Linked DNA regions of Homo sapiens: region 2 is linked to region 1. Evidence: fine-mapped expression QTL. Tissue or cell type: skeletal muscle. Region 1 holds a variant in brackets; the other region holds the start of a gene. All regions are shown on one strand. Distances are between the middles of the regions.

Region 1 (8,110 bases):
AATAGATGAGAGAACAGGTTTGATTTTTGAACAAATTAAATTTGAGATACTTGTGGGATATCCTAAAAAGAGATCCAAGAGATAGCTGTATAGATGGATCTGTGCTCAGAGAATTCTCAGCTGGAGATACACATTTGGGGATTATTTGCATATGGATAGAAAAAAATACCATAGGGGTGAATGAGTTCACTCCAGGAGACTCATGAAGTAAGAAGAGAACCAGGCAGGAACTCTATGGACAACCAAGAGTTAAGGGTGATAGAGCATTGTTTAAATCACAGTTTAATTCTTGCCAATGAAAGGGAAAAGAGAAGTATGTATCACTATGTCATTTTTAATCAGTAATGAAAACCTTGGTATCCCATGACTCAAATAGAAGGTAAGATCTCTAAAAAAATGTGTGGGAGTAATCGGGGAAATGTTCGCAAGATGGTCAGTATTAATTAAATGCAGTATTTGTTGAATTTACTTTTCCCTGTGCTTTCAGTGCAAAACTAAACAAAACCTTAAAAAGCCTCATAGTTTCAGTGTGGTGAATGAATACCTAGAAATGCAAGGTTAGATTGAAAAACCCATTATATATTTATTAGCAGTGTTGTTTCACTACCTTGTCATCAATGTTCAAGAACAGTACTGCAATGGAAAGCTCAAGGGAAATGCAGGAGCTTTATACAAAGACATATTCTTTAGCCTTTGATAAGGTTCTACAGTGATAATTCTGGAAAAAGTAAAATGTCATGAAGCAATGAACAAAAAGAGCTTACAGGATAGAAAGCAAACCAATAACAAGAACTAGTATCATTTTTGGCAGGCAGGTCAGTGAAGTAGGAAGATAATTTCCTACTGGTGACATGATTTCCATGAAGCTAATTGCCTACAATGCCAATTATGGTGAGAAGCCTTAGACTAGGGCAATCGCGACCTGTGAAAAAGGAATTCAATACTGAAAAGACCAGATGCTTTGGGTAAATAAGTGATTACCTGAATATAAGTTAGATACCCTTGTGAGAAACATTAACTCTTCAGGCCAACAACGTACCACCAGAGGTCCACTCCCAAATAACGCTCTGTGTCTTCCAAAGGGCCTTACAACCAAACCAGCACACCTATCCAAAACGCAGCTTCCACACACCATGGCTCTGTGTATTGAAAGGAAGACAAACTGAATGAAGTTCATAAAATAAATTCCCCATCTCACTCATTTGTCAGAGGGAATATCTGCCAGTATTCTCTGCAATACAGGACTCTGCTTACCCGATTTCTACAGGGAGCTCTGGACTGCCTTCCTGATTCCAGCCTCTGTCAACCTTTTCTCTCCCTCCCTTTGCCAACATTAAAAAAGAAGTTAACAAATGGATCTAATTACCACAGTGGTTTGAGGCTTCTCAACGTTTTTTTTTTTCCCCTTCCAGCTGTAAAGATGTCCTCAGACTGAGCTTCACATTCAGAACTGCTGTCAAACTCTCACTTTAAGGGGCACTTAAATTTAATGTCAAGCTGATGCCTGCGGAAGACCTTGATTAAATTTGCAGAGTAGACTCTAACTGAAACAGAACTTTAGAGTTGTCTCATTTCACCCTTCAAGCTTAAATCCCAGAAGTTTTCTTCTCTTCTTTGTAAAGAATTACAAAGTTTGCTTGCAAAGACCCTGAGTATCAATAAGACAGCAAAGTGTAACAAGCAAAACACCCTGCATGCTTTTAGAGACAGAAGAAATCCCTTAGCTTATTAAAATTCTATGTGAATTAAAGATCTTTCCCATTGCTTTATTCCATTCCCAGCTCATTCGAAATCTATAACTATTTACTTTTATGACTCTATAATATTATAAGCAGTCCTAAAAAGTTTACTTAAAACCTTCCTAGTGTTCTTTCATGCACATGGCAATTAAGTTTTGTACTGTATGGACAGAGTGAAAAACATTATGGAAAAACAACTTGAAAGAAATGTGACAGAATTTCTCCTAACAATGTCATTGCTTCAACCAGCTACAAATTTCCAACCTAGTTTCTTTCTTTTGCTGTTTCTTCTTTTGTCTTTGATACAATCATACAGCCTCTCTTCCTTGAAGAGATAATAAAAGACTAACAGTTAAAAGATCTGGAAGACTCATATTCTTTTCTTTTTCACTGGCTACGGTTTTGAAAAGAGGCTGTTGGCTTTTGATTTTTTCTTTTGGGTTCTTTACATCGCCCAATTCAAACAGGTCTGCTCTCAAAGAAAACAAATCAAAATTGTCAAGACCTGTGAAGCATGAAAAATAAATTGCTTTTTCCAACTCCAAAAAGCACCAGAAAAGCATTAATTTTGATCTTTTATAAACCTCTATCCCCTATCCTCTAATCTATAGATTTCACAGAATGTTTATATATTCTTCTGTATAATACAGGAGATCAAACCTTATTATGAATAAATTGAATTGAACCTGTAATACAACTAATATTTAAACTAGTGTTATTTTGGAGTTCAACTAGACACATATAAAACATTCAAGTGAGATGACACAAATTCCTGGGGCTGCCAGTATAAAATAAACAGTCCAGTAAGCTGCATCTACCATGCCGTTAAGGACTCTGTCCTTTTAGCTGGTGGGAGCACAGGCTTCATAAAAGAAGGAGAACATGAAGCAGTAGAAAAAGACAGCCTTGCAAAATGCTGCCAGATACAAAACATTCTATCAGAAAATTTCTCATTGAACTACAGTGGCGAGAGTGCTTCTAATATCTCCCTTCTTTTAACACAGCGAAGACCTACATTTCTATGCTCGGCTTTCTAAAGCTAACTTAATTCTGTGGTTAAAACAGCTCCAGGTAGCACTTGTTCTTTTTTTTTTTTTTTAAAGAAGGACTTGTGGTTTTGCAGTCCATGGATAAAGTGGTAGGCAATCATCAGATTCCTGTTGAGAACGACAAATGATGAAGGGAGTAGCAGATGGTTTCAGAAGGCAGAGATTTATAGGGGTAATTTGTAGTGGAATAATACTATTTTCTGAACTAGGTAATAATAATTCACCAAGACAAGTAAAAGTTTAGATAGATAGTATCTCATTTAATTATATGTTGCTAAATATTCCAAGAAATCTTTGACTCAGAAGCCTAAAATGAAAACTCAATTAGTTGACATTTTTAGTTTCTGATGATCTGATCCTGTTTAATCCTTTTCATCATGATGCAGTTTATCACATGATTAAAAATATGGTGCTGCTAACAGTCTAGTTTTCTGAATACAATGTGCTCTTTTCAATTTAGTTACTATCTGATTCAAAAGGATAAAAGTATCCCTCTTTACCAGGAAAAGAAGACAGAAATAGACGAATACTTTTCACATATTCCAAGGTAATAGATGAGGAAGAACTATGTTTCAAACAGGGTTTCCTGAGCACCCCAAATCCTATTGGTGAGTGAGTAGAGCCCCAGGAGGAAATCACTATTTAGATGAGGGTATCCACAATGGCACTGCTCCACAAGGCATACGTGCCAGGGATCATCAACTTCACCTTACTCCCTTGACAAAAGCAGGCAGAGAGAACAGGGCATTGATCTCGTATGTTTGTAATCATCCACAACATTTATTAAATTCTATTGCTGGCACTGAAAGGAGGGGGTTACTATAAGTATCACTATTCATTGCTCAAGTAAATTAATTTAATTTACCAAATCTATTTGGTAATTCACAGCAACTACAGAAGTAATAAGGTATGGAAGTTGGAGGGTAAAATAAACACTTTATTTTATATGTACAACCTTCTTGCTTGGTAATTGTCTATTCTTCATGAACCTGTCCCCAGAGTAATGGCAGCAGATAAGACGTGCCATTATTTTACATAATAAAATATCCCTATTATTCCTTAATAAATATAACTGGCTATACTTTATGTTAATTCCCAAGTCACAGTTCACTCAGGAGGGTCTGGTGCCACTCAAAGGTGCCTGATGTAGAATAACCACAAATAGGTCAACTCTTAAAAAAAGGTAAAGAAAAGTTTAAAATCTTCATTAGTGATCAGCAGTGTGTTGGATACTCCAAATTACCATTTTAAAACTGAAGTAATGTCCAATCTGTTACGACATAAGACTCTCCCAATTATACGCAGACACTGTCATGTACACTTTGATATTTATTAACAAAAATGGTCCAGAAAAGGATTGAGTCAAAATTACAAAGTGATTAAGAGTTAAAACAAAAGTTGTTCTTTATTGTAGTTTCTGGGGGACTTTAACCAGTCCCCAAAGCTGTTTTTATCTCCTAAAATAGGACTTAAATGACATCACTCAAGTGACAGATTTTAATAGAAACTCCTCCTCTTTCCTTCTGTCAAAGCAAAATATAGTGAAAGTCTCTGTTGTTACCTCAAACCTCCTTTCCTAATAAGTGTGCATGCCTGTAGATGGATTGGGATGCAGTGAAGAGAGAAGTTAAACAAAAAGGTTAAAAAAAAAAAAAAGGCCAGGCACAGTGGCTCACAACCGTAATCCCAGCACTCTGGGACGCTGAGGTGTGAGGATCGCTTGAGCCCAGGAGTCTGAGATCTGCCTGGGCAACATAGGGAGACCCCCCACCTCTACAAAAAAAAATTGAAAAAAATTATCTGGATATGAGGTGCACACCTGTGGTCC[T/C]AACTACTTGGGAGGCTGAGGTAGGAGGATCACTTGAGCTGGGAAGGTCAAGGCTGCAATCAGCTGTAATTGTGTCACTGCACTAAGCCTTGGTGACAGAGTGAAACCCTTTTTCAACAACAAAGGCAAAATCTTAAAAACAGGAAACAGGCTATTGAGGAAAAAGGGTTATAAAACTGCCTAAGAATCTTCACTAAAGTAATCTTCTAGTCCTTCCATATCCATTTCCAGAGAGGAATTTAAAGAGGCCAGAGCAGATGATGCATCCTTGGTTTTCTGGACACTTGGTTTGGGTTGAGGAGTTTCTGGTTGGATAGGTTCCTTCTTTATGTCTTTACCACCATTTAGAATACGTTGGCTCTCACAAAAGAACTGATTAGGATGATTCAAAGAAAAGCCACAATCATCCACCTGTAAAGGAAGGAAATTTATATTGCATTAATGCATGGCAAAGCTATAAATATATGAGTTTCAAAAGCTGTTTTAGTACTTGTTTAAAACTTAATACCTGAAACATGGATTCTAGCTGTTTGCATTCTAACACTTAATCAGCTACTTACACCATTTCATTCAAAGAGAGCTTCAACCACTACCCAAACCTAAATGGCTCCCACATTTATATTTCTAGTCTGAGCCTCTGTGTTTGGCTCCAGTTCCCTATCTAGTTTCAGTCCCATATCCAACACCTACTCAACATCTAAGATGGCTCAAAGGCAGCTCAAACCCAACAGGAAACGTATCCTTTCCCCTCTCCCCATCCTTTGCTCTCAGTGATTGGTATCACCATTCATCCTTGGGGCATACTAGACACCTTTCTCTCACCTCCCCAGCCCCCAACTCCCACCTGCCACCTCCCATCTACACCAAGCCCTCAATTCTGGCAATACCCAAAACATTACCAATTCTGGTTGACAATTACGTCAAAACAAAAAATTAGAAAACTATAAAAATATGTTTGGAATACAAATGTGTGTGTGTGTGTGTGTGTGTGTGTGTGTGTGTGTGTGTGTGTGTGTGAATGACATTGTATGTTAGTGAGGCACAGGTTAGGGACCTGTGTGATTCATTATTGTATCCCCAGTTCCAAGCAAAAGGCCTACCACATTGTAGGCCAGTAAATATTTGTGGGTTTTTAAGTGATCGTAAAATCATTTTTGATCATTTTGATACTGGTCCCTGATACCACTTGTGTTTTAGAGCTGACTTGTAAGTCTGGCATATGCACTCATTTAGTATGATATAAACTGAAAAAGCAACCTAAGTCAATGTAATTCTTCATTCTAATCTTGGCCTTTCCTTGGTCTTTTTACAGAAAATCTCTTCTTGTAAATTTCACTGTGACTGAATACAAACATGCCTGGTTCATAACTTATGTTATTTTTTCTCAAATACTATCATTAAACTTTAATTTTGAGTATCATTTCAAATTATGCACTCTAGTAATCTCTCCTTATATTCAGTTTCACTTTCCACAGTCTCAAATCCCTGCCTTCTCGCCTTCTGCAGTTGGAGTTGACAACAAAAATATCATTTTGCTTGAGTGAGTGACTGTTGGTTTCTTGGGTGGTATTTTCATTTATCAAGTTTTTGGAAACTGAGAAGTTATTCCATTTCTTTTGTTCATCTGTCTTGTATTAACTAATCCTTTTACGTCTCACTCTTCGTACTGAAGTGACTTGCACACTGTAGGTATCTAATAAATATTTGGTGAAGTGAACCCAGAAATAGTGTATACCAGTGATAATTTTGCATATTTAATTAAAGCCTTACTATATAAAAGACTGTGTTATAAACTATTCACTATTCAGCATACAGGAATACATTTGACTAACTCAAATTTCCAACCCAGTAAGTCATATACTTAAAAACCTCTACCAAGAATGGAGAACTGATGAGGGTCACAGATAAAGGCCTATTACACTCCACAGTAGAGAGAAATTTCGGCTGAGGAGATCAAGGAAGGCTTTGTAAGAGGAGTGCTATTTGAGTTGCGTCTGGAAAGATGGAGAGGGTGAAAAGCTGGGATGATGAGGGGAAAGGCAATATTTGCAGCAGGACCACATGAGCAAGGTAAAGAGGGAATGTCCTGGGAAAGCAAATATTAAATAGTTCACATAGCCTACTATGAAAGGCACATACAAGGAAACAATAAGGAATGAGGTTGGAAAGACAGGCAGGGGCCAGCCTGAGAGAGCCTTGAAAATCAGGGTAAGTGGTCAAGACCTAATTCTCTAGGCAACACAGAGTCACCAAAAACCCTTAAAAAGAGACGTGGTGTGATTAAAGCTATGTATAATCTTTTAGTAGATTAAAATGAATTGGCCAGGGAAAAAGGGGTTGCTGCCATGGTCTAGAATGAACCCTACTGGTGGACGGACCAGCAGACAGAAACATGAGTCTTTTCTGGTAATACTTATCTAAGCACCCTAGGAATCTCTGATTCTCTTTTGCTAGTTGTTAATACATGTTAGGCTAATTTTATAGTAATTCCAGTGTGTAACAGATGGATAGTATACAGACTGATTTTAAGAGTTATAGATCATTAAGAACAAATTTTTATCTTTGCTTCATTTTTTTAACTTAGCTGCTTGATTTCAAAATGTTTCTGAAATGTTTTATAATTTTTATTAACAATGGAATCATTTGTGAACTTTTTTATTACATTCAATTTTCACCCAATTCATTAAAAACTGGGAAATCCAATATAAATTTTGCATTTTGCAATGTGTTTCACAAAAAGTATGTTTATTGTCTAATACATTTTAATCAGAAGGCTTTACAGTTTGTAAAATAGTTTGTAAACAGAGAATCAGAGATTAGAAAGACCTTGGGGAATCCATTAAATTCAATCTCCTCCATGTACAGAGGCCTAAGGAGAATAGATGGTTTATTCAAGGTCATAGAATTAGTAACTGGTTTTGTCTGAATTAAAATTCAGGCCTTCTGACTAGATCATTAGTTGCTCTGAAATCTGTTTTAAGAGATTGTATGCAAAATCATACTGATAATGATATCTCCATTATAAATTTTATTTCTAGAGATAAACTTGGCTACAAAGATTAGAAAAACATAGTTGTACTATTTCATGCAAAAATAACCTAGTATCTTATGCTATAATAATATCTTGGCATTTTCTATACCTCGCTTCAAGTTGTCAGTTAGCAATACATTTATTAGACTTCAATGTGCACAAAATAGGGTAATCTTTTTAAAGTCTGATTTTCTCCATCTATGAAATGGAGATAACAGTGTTAGGTCATAGGGTTGCCATGGGAAAAGTAAATAAAAATGAATGTTAAAAAAAATTGTTCTATGAAATCTAAATAAAATGTTTTTAAAGAGTCAAGAAAAGCAAGTCACTTAAAAAAAAGGTGAAAGTCACAGAAGGAGAGGGAGAAAGATCCTATTGCTTTGCATATATCAAGTTCCTTTTCTACTTTAAGGAATCCAAACTGGAAATTGCTGATGCTGTATTATGGGTATAGTTTATAAAA
Region 2 (8,110 bases), 330 kb after region 1:
TTGATTCTACCTTCTTAATGTCTCTTCAACCGGTCCCCTTCTCTCATTTAATTCAGACTCTCATCATTTCCGGGCTTCTAACTGGTTTCCCTCCTAACAGACATGACCCTGTCAATCTGCTGCTGGCAGTCATCTTCCCAAAATGAAAATCTAATCACATCTGTCAACATGCAGCTCCACTACTACCTCTTCTGGAAAGCCTTCCCAAACCTCCCCAATCTGAGCTGCATAATTATGTATGTTTTTGGAGTTCCTGGAGCATGCATCTATAAACACAGTCATCATCCTGTATTGCACGGGATACATTTGGCATGTCTGGAAATATGTAGGGGTAGAAGCCAGAGATGCTACTGAGCATCCTACAGTGCACAGAACAATCCCTGCAACAAGGAATTATCAGACCCAAAATGATGTTAGTCCTGAGGTTGAGAAACCCTGCCATATTATAATCATCTGACTTCATGTCAATCACCCCTAATACACTGAAGAACCTTCAGGCTAATGATACATTAGTCTTTATAAAAGCCCAGTGCCTAATATAATATCTTTCCCACAAGTGACACTCAATACATAAATGCATAGAAACTGAAGGAACTTTTTTTTCCTTTTTTACTTACTCTGTAGGAAAACTTGAGCTTCCGAAGCTCACTCTCCAACTTACTCTGGTATTGTTCAGTTCCTTTCACATAGCTCACTCCAAGATTTTCAACTGATTTTAACACTAAAAAAAAGAAAAAAGGTATAAATGCAAGATAATGTTTTAAAACTAAATCCAAGACAAAATCTATGGAGGGCAATTCCATAATTACTTGTTTACAGAACATGACAGGTAATTGCCAGTTTATTTCCTGTAACGACATCATATAAACTACATATGCTTATAAGAGGATAATGTCCATCTATGTGCAGAAAATATCCATGTCCCACAGCATAATTTAATACCAGGGATTCTCAATCAGGGAAGAGGGATGGATGGTGAATAATCATTCCTGAGGAACAGAAAAGTATGTCAGTATGGAAAAAAAAACTAGGCACTCCTTGTTTGCATCCTTCGTATGGGAGCTGCCTGTTAGGCAGTAGGCATCATTTACTTGGCATAGATTCAACAGAAAAAAAGCATCCCTTCCTTTCCTGATGAAGCCGAGGACAGAGCACAACAGTGAAGAAGAAAGGCCATCCAAACAGCCAAATGAACCATCCTGAACAGATGCTACATACTGTTCAAAGGTTCCTAAAGCACCATATCAATCTTTCCTCAGATGAATTATTCTCTGGAGGCATTTTTGAAGTCAAGAATGAAGAACTTCTAATTGTCTCCTGAACATAAACCCCATGTCCCACAGGTATGGGTATCCAAATTAATTATCCTCCCCTCATTCCTACTCTTCGTCCTGCCATGCCCATCTCCAGCAGCAGAGTTTCCATGCATCAGATCATCCAAGCAGGAACTGCAGCCACTCCACACCTGCTCCCTCACTCCTCATATCCAGTCACCAAATCCTATCAATGCTAACTCCTCAGTATCCCTTAACTCTCTCCCTTCCTACCACTGCCATTGTCATTATCATAGTTCAGGCCCTTATCATTTCACCTCAAGTGCCAAACCCAAGGGACACTTTTCAATCACCATCTTAATCCCTATGAAGTATTGACACTGCTAAGCTTTCTAAAACCCTTTTCTCCCTTGTCTTCATTCTTTCATTCAACACACAGGCACTGAGTGCCTCCTCTCTGTATTAGCAGTGCTTACCCTGCTCCTCTAAGAATGATTAACAGTATCTCACCTTTCCTTCTGATTTCCCCACAGGGATATCCTGGAACATAAACTCTGAAGACAACGCTAGTGTTTCTGTTTCAATTCATGTCTAGCCCATTCTTTTCTCTAGCAACACACTGAGGATTAAGTAGGCCCCCAGGACGGTGGCCACATCCTTCTTACACCCCAATATCATATCATTAGCATGGCACAAAATGCCCTCCATACTTCTCCATCCACCCTGAATTCCTGAACTTGTTACTGTTAGCTCAAATATGAAATTCTCTTTCATGCTCCAAGCCTTTGCATAGGCCATTATCTCAGCTTGGAAAAACTCTTCACTTCTTCTCTGCTGGAAAATTTCTACTCATTCTTCAGTATGTCCAGATCACATTTCAACTTCTCTAAGAAGCTCATTTAATAAGACTAAGTCAGTCACTCCCACTTCTTTGTTTCAACAGCACTACCATTTACTTCTACTAGAGCAGTTAAAATACTGAATTATGACTATTATTTTGGATGTCTGTCTCCATGTACTAGAATAAAACTTCAACAAAAAATAACATTATTCATCTCAAAATCCCTGCCACCTAGAACATAATGGCACTCAATAATATGCATTGTACAATAAATAAATGAATGAGTACCAAACCCTCAACAAATATTTGTTGAATGGATTGCTGAATGAAGGATATGAATTACCTCAATAAATACTTGTTGAATGGATTGCTGAATGAAGGAAATGAATTACCTTCATTCATTCTCACAAAGGGTAAGTGAGCTTCTCAAGAATATATACATTCTAATTTAAATAGTACTTACATTTAACTCTATCAATAGCCAAGTTTTCAAATTCTATTAAAGATATGTTTTCAGAAGGTGGCTGCAAGTAAAACTGAAGGCAATGAGGGTAGGAAGCATTCCTCTGGTCACCTGCCAACCTCAGCTTCCTCCACTTTCTTCCAGAAAACTCCATCTTGGTCACCTTAGAAGGAAGTACACAAAAAGCGTAAAATGATGGAAAACAAAGTTGGGGGAAAAAAAAGAAAAAACACGAAAAAATAATTCCACAAACACAGAAAAAAAATGGATTTGAGGGCATGCACAAAATGTTAGCAGTGGCAATTCCTGGGTGATGTCCTTCTCTCGTTTCCAGATTTTCTACAATACACCTATAATAATTTTGTAATGGGGGTGGGAGAGGCGCTAGAGCAGATGCAGGTGGTGATCCTAATTTTCAGCAACATGAAAGTCAGGTGATGTTGCCTGCTCATTATAGGCCTGTGTGTCACTGTTCTTGGATCTTTACGATCCCAAGAGTTAACATAAGGTTTTACGTGGTCTGCAATCCTGAACTTAGAGGAAAGTGCTGTAGGTTCTGGCTAAATGAGGGTCTTACTTGATGGACTGGGTCCAGTTACTCACTTCCTCTGTTATGACTCTGGGAAACAGAGCAACTGTCTTTCGGAACTCCTTTTCGGGAGCATCCACAAGTGCCTTACAAAAGTTCCATCCCCAACACCCCTCCTCACTCCACTGGCAAACCTATCTCTCCCCAACTCCTCCCTGGTACCTGGGTGTCTGCCCCAAACAACCAACCCGCCAAGTCTGTCCTTCTGCTACTGCTGCCTGCAAAGTGATCCATCTCTCCTTTCTCTCGACTTGCAAGCCTTAATAACAGGATTGCTCTCTGTCCTAAATTCGCGGAAGTTTCCCCTACCTGCAAGAATTCAAACTCGGGAAAACACAAACGGTGGCAGCCACTGTTCCCGGGTGGCGGGAGAGTTCATATGAAACCGGAAGAGGAAGTGACTAGCACAGAAGGCCAGCCCTGCCCCACCTCCCCTTGGCGGGTAGGAGGGGGTTTGGCCTGAGGCTCTGGGCATGCTCAGTGGAGCGCGTCTGGGAATTCAAGGTGTTCCGTCCACCTTGGCAGCTTTAAAGTGTTTGGATGTCAGTGTTTTGGGGATTTTTTTTCCAAATTTTAAGATGCATTTCCTGTATGTGGAGTCGGTAGCTTTAACGGTTGAAACTGGGGTGCTGAATGCTAGTGGCGAAAACTCCCACACGCCGAAAATTGAACCAATGTAACTTCGTCTGGGGACACTAACAAATATTCCCTATATTGAGGAAAATATGGCGCTTTAACCCTCAGGGCTGGCACTCATCACTTTCAATCTGGGGAGGAATGAGGAAAAAAGGCATTAGGATCTTTTTTGCACCTAGCTCACTATTAGGGGCTCTTTTTTTTCCGCTCGTTTAATCTTTCAGCGACCTATAAGGTCCTATAAGATCGTATTACCCCCATTTGGCAGATGAGAAAACAAGTTACAAGATCCTCGTTAGTTTGCCCGTCTACATACAATACATATTTTGAATTTCGTATTGGGCGGCAAGCCCCTACTGGCAGGTTCCACGTTCAATTCGCTCCCCGCTCTCCGGCAATGCCTCGCACAGAGGAAGCGCGCAGCTGAATTATCTGTGGAATGAACTAGAATGAATGAAAGAAGGCACATTCGCAGGAATCGCTCTGCAATCTACAGGAATTAGAAGAACCCAGCCTCGGAGGGAAGGTAGGGTGGAAGAAGATGAAGCACTGGAAATCACGCGGACGTGCCGCTTACTTTCCAGATGTCCGACTGCAGACTCACAAGCGGGGCGTCAGAGCCACCACACCAGTTCTCCGCTGTCTGTAAGATTTTCGAGAACTGGAAATTAACTTCACTCGTGGCCTCTAGGAGGCGTGCCTCGCTTACAAATGTGCTGGAATGAGGCTCCGGTATAGGTAGTCCTTAGGAGATCAAATGAATGCTTTGAAATGTTCACGTTTTTAGAAATGCAAAGTACATTGAAACAATATCAAGCTTCAAAGCATCTACCCAGCCTGGACTAAACTGTGGCTGGCACTGACTTTATATCAGGACCTGTTCTAAGTGGTTTACATATCAACTCATTTTATTATCATAACCACATAAGATAGGTTATTCCCCCCGACCCACCACCAATACCCGAGACAGAGTCTTGTTCTGTCGCCCAGGCTGGAGTGCAGTGGAGCGATCTTGGCTCACTGCAACCTCCGCCTCCGGGATTCAAGCGATTCTCCTGCCTCAGCCTCCCAAATAGCTGGGATTACAGGCGCCTGGCTAATTTTTGTATTTTTAGTAAAGATGGGGTTTCACCATGTTGGCAAGCTGGTCTCGAACTCCTGACCTCGTGATCCGCCCACCTCGGCCTCCCAAAGGTTATTATATTAAACGTATTTTCTAGATACGGAAACTGAAGAACAGAGAAGTTAAATGAAGTCAAAAGGACACAAAATGTCAGAGCCATGTTCAAACCCAGAGAAACTCTCCAGGCCCCACTGTGCTAACGATCTCACTACACCAATTCCAGTAATATGACAGCAGAGCTTCACCTCATTTCTTCCTCTCTGTATTAAATACATAATACAAATACGTAATACAAATACATCACGTGGTCCAAAGAAGACACCTGAAAGCATATAAACTGCCTGAAAAAACCTGCATCACAGACCATAAGAATATTTACATGAATATCTTATCTCTGGATAGCAAACAAATTTAAATATTATAAATTACAAAGAAAAAAGATATAAAGACTTGACCATAAAAAGTATAAAATTATGCATGTAAAAAATTCACAGAAGTATTTTGCACTCATCAAACTAGAGAAAGGTCTACCAAAAGTATAACATCGAAAAGGTTAATGCCATCAGGATACAAAGAAGTTAACTCATTAGGAAAAAAATCCTAAGACACAAACAGAAAAATAGGACAAGAAGAAGAAGAGGTAACTCATAGAAAAAATAACTACTGTTAAATATGAAAAATGTTTTTATCACTAGAGGCAAAGAAATTTTCTCCTGCAAAATTGTCAAGGATTTTATAATGAAACTACTCAGTGTTGCCACCTGTTTTGCTCCTCATTTAAACCCCTGAGGCTCTTCATGACTCCCATATGGTGTAGTTCTTTAAATAATTATAGCCCTCTACTACAGAAGTTCTTTATCTTTTGGAAGATCAAGATTAAGAACTTCTGTAGTAGAGGGATGTTAATTAGGTCTATGAACCACTGGACAATGTGATGAAAGCTCTCTTCAGAAAAATGCACCTACACACACATCTATACTATTTCAAGAGGTTCAAGATCACCATATGTGGCTAGTTAAGAATTCCAGCACTACTAGGTTTTAAGCTTTCTTTGGATGAGCCCTTTTGTTCATCTCTGTGATCCCCAAAGTACTTCCTACAATATCTGCCCAATTAAAAGACGAAGTAGCCAGTGTCATTTCATGACCAGCTCAGAGAAAACTGGAAATATATGTTCATGCTTAACATACCAATATCTTACTATGTCACATAATAGCTGCCTTTTCATCATATTAAAAACTGATTTTAAGCCCCGGGGAACAAAATACCCTGTGTTGGTCAGCTATTCCAGCATTTTTATTGTTTCCTAATGCCACAGTTTTGGTCACTACCTCACTGTGAAGGGTGTTTTTCTGAATCCAGAGGCAATTGCAATATAAATCCGCATATCACGGTAGCAATAATGCACAATAATGTTATACATTTCAGCAGCCATGTTCAGTAAATCACTGTGAGCTCTTTCATGTATTCACTTCATCTACAAAAAATTGATTGACACAATGCTCAGCCCTGGCAACCAAGATTCTTGTAAATACAGACATTGACCTCACAATCATGGGAAGGAAAACATACATAAACATGTAAGTTTTACTTCCACTGAACCATAGCATCTCAAAAACAGGGATGACTGTTTCATTCATTTCTGTGACCCCAGTGCCTGGCACTCCATGGGCCCTCAATAAATACTTATGAAACTGAATTGTTTTTGTTTTTTCTTTGGTTTTGTTTTGTTTTTTGAGACGAAGTCTCGCTCTGTTGCCCAGGCTGGAGTGCAGTAGCATGATCTCGGCTCATTGCAACCTCCAACTCCTGGGTTCAGGCAATTCTCCTACCTCAGCCTCCCGAGTAGCTGGGATTACAGGCGCCTGCCACCATGCCCAGCTATTTTTTTGCTTTTTTAGTAGAGACGGGGTTTCACCACGTTGGCCAGGCTGGTCTCAGACTCCTGACCTCAGGTGATCCACCTGCCTCGGCCTCCCTAAGTGCTGGGATTATAGGCGTGAGCCACTGCGCCCAGCCCATACTGAATTGTTGAATACTGTGAGAGACATATGAAAAAAAATGCTGGGTTCAGCTTCCCATTAAACAGATGGTTTGAATCAAATGTGACTCCAACCTATAAAACTTCAAGTCCTCATCTGAAAACATTATACACATTCCTTCCAGAATGAGTTGGCTTCCTAGTTTAGCCTGTAATAAAGCACAGAGTACCTTCTCTGGCAGAATTTCCATGAATCATCACTGCTCAATTCAGTGCCTGCCTTGGGCATTACCCAGCTACAGACAGACTGCCCCACGTGGCATTCACCCTGAGATAACTCCTCCACAGCTCCAGAACTTCTATCCCAAAAAGTGTCACACTTACAGCTGAGAATTTAGTTGCCATGCTTGGTAAATCTAAGTGAGTGTTCATTCCTCTTCTGAGCGGGGTGTGTCGCCCTGAAAACCAAAGGCGTGGTAAGCTTCTTTACTGAGTAAGCATGCTGTAAATTCTAGGTCCTACCAGCTGTGTTTGCCATGAAAAGCAGAGAACATGAGGTATTTCCAGCAAGATAGCTGACCCATAAAAGCTAATGCAGAGTTAGCCAACCTCTGGCCCTCCACCCTCCCCATTTCACTGCCTACCTCTCGGAGTTGGCTGGGAAACAACCTAAAGAAAGCACTTCATTCTCTCTCCATTTGCTTTAGATTGCTTTATTAGTCAAAATCAAGGAGCAGGAGAACTGACAGAAAGCACATTCTTAATGGTAGCACGGTGAAGAAACACTACCCTTCCATATATCAGCATTATTTGGTGTGTTCCAGAAATAGTAATTAAACACTTACTAAGTGCCAGGCAACATTTTCTATGCTGGGGATATGAGAATGATGAGAGAGCCAAAAAATCCTGCTCTTATAAATCTTCTAATGGGGAAGAGAGACAATAAACAAGTTAAAGACATAAATAATTATGTTAGATAACAACTACTAAACAGAAAGAAATTAATCAGAAAAGAAGAATGTAAAGTTTTTCAAGGAGATAATGAAATTTTAGAAAAGATAGCCAGGAAAGGCTGGCTAAGAATGTGGCCATGAAACAGAGACCAGAAGAAAACTTGGGATTTAGTCATGTCTATCTTTAGGAGAATAGCATTTCAGGCAGATGGAAGGCTAATCTTAATTCATTAGTATTTAAGACATTACA

The links. PIP is the estimated chance that this variant, and not a neighbour inherited with it, causes the effect.
Region 2: PRIM2 starts here. The variant in region 1 is fine-mapped to the expression of PRIM2 in skeletal muscle (GTEx, PIP 0.95).

The regions. Positions count from the first base shown.
Region 1 is chr6:57,642,845-57,650,954 of GRCh38, reverse strand. PRIM2 (DNA primase subunit 2) reads right to left here. Exons shown (of 14, transcript NM_000947.5): 14 at 4,105-5,027. The coding sequence ends at 4,797. Among named protein-coding and RNA genes, the nearest start is that of TRI-AAT1-1, 150 kb to the left of the region's middle. The variant T/C (reference allele first, on the strand shown) is at 4,617.
Region 2 is chr6:57,313,068-57,321,177 of GRCh38, reverse strand. PRIM2 (DNA primase subunit 2) reads right to left here and starts at 3,548. Exons shown (of 14, transcript NM_000947.5): 1 at 3,477-3,548; 2 at 2,579-2,741; 3 at 618-721. The coding sequence starts at 2,732. RefSeq lists a silencer at 4,414-4,463.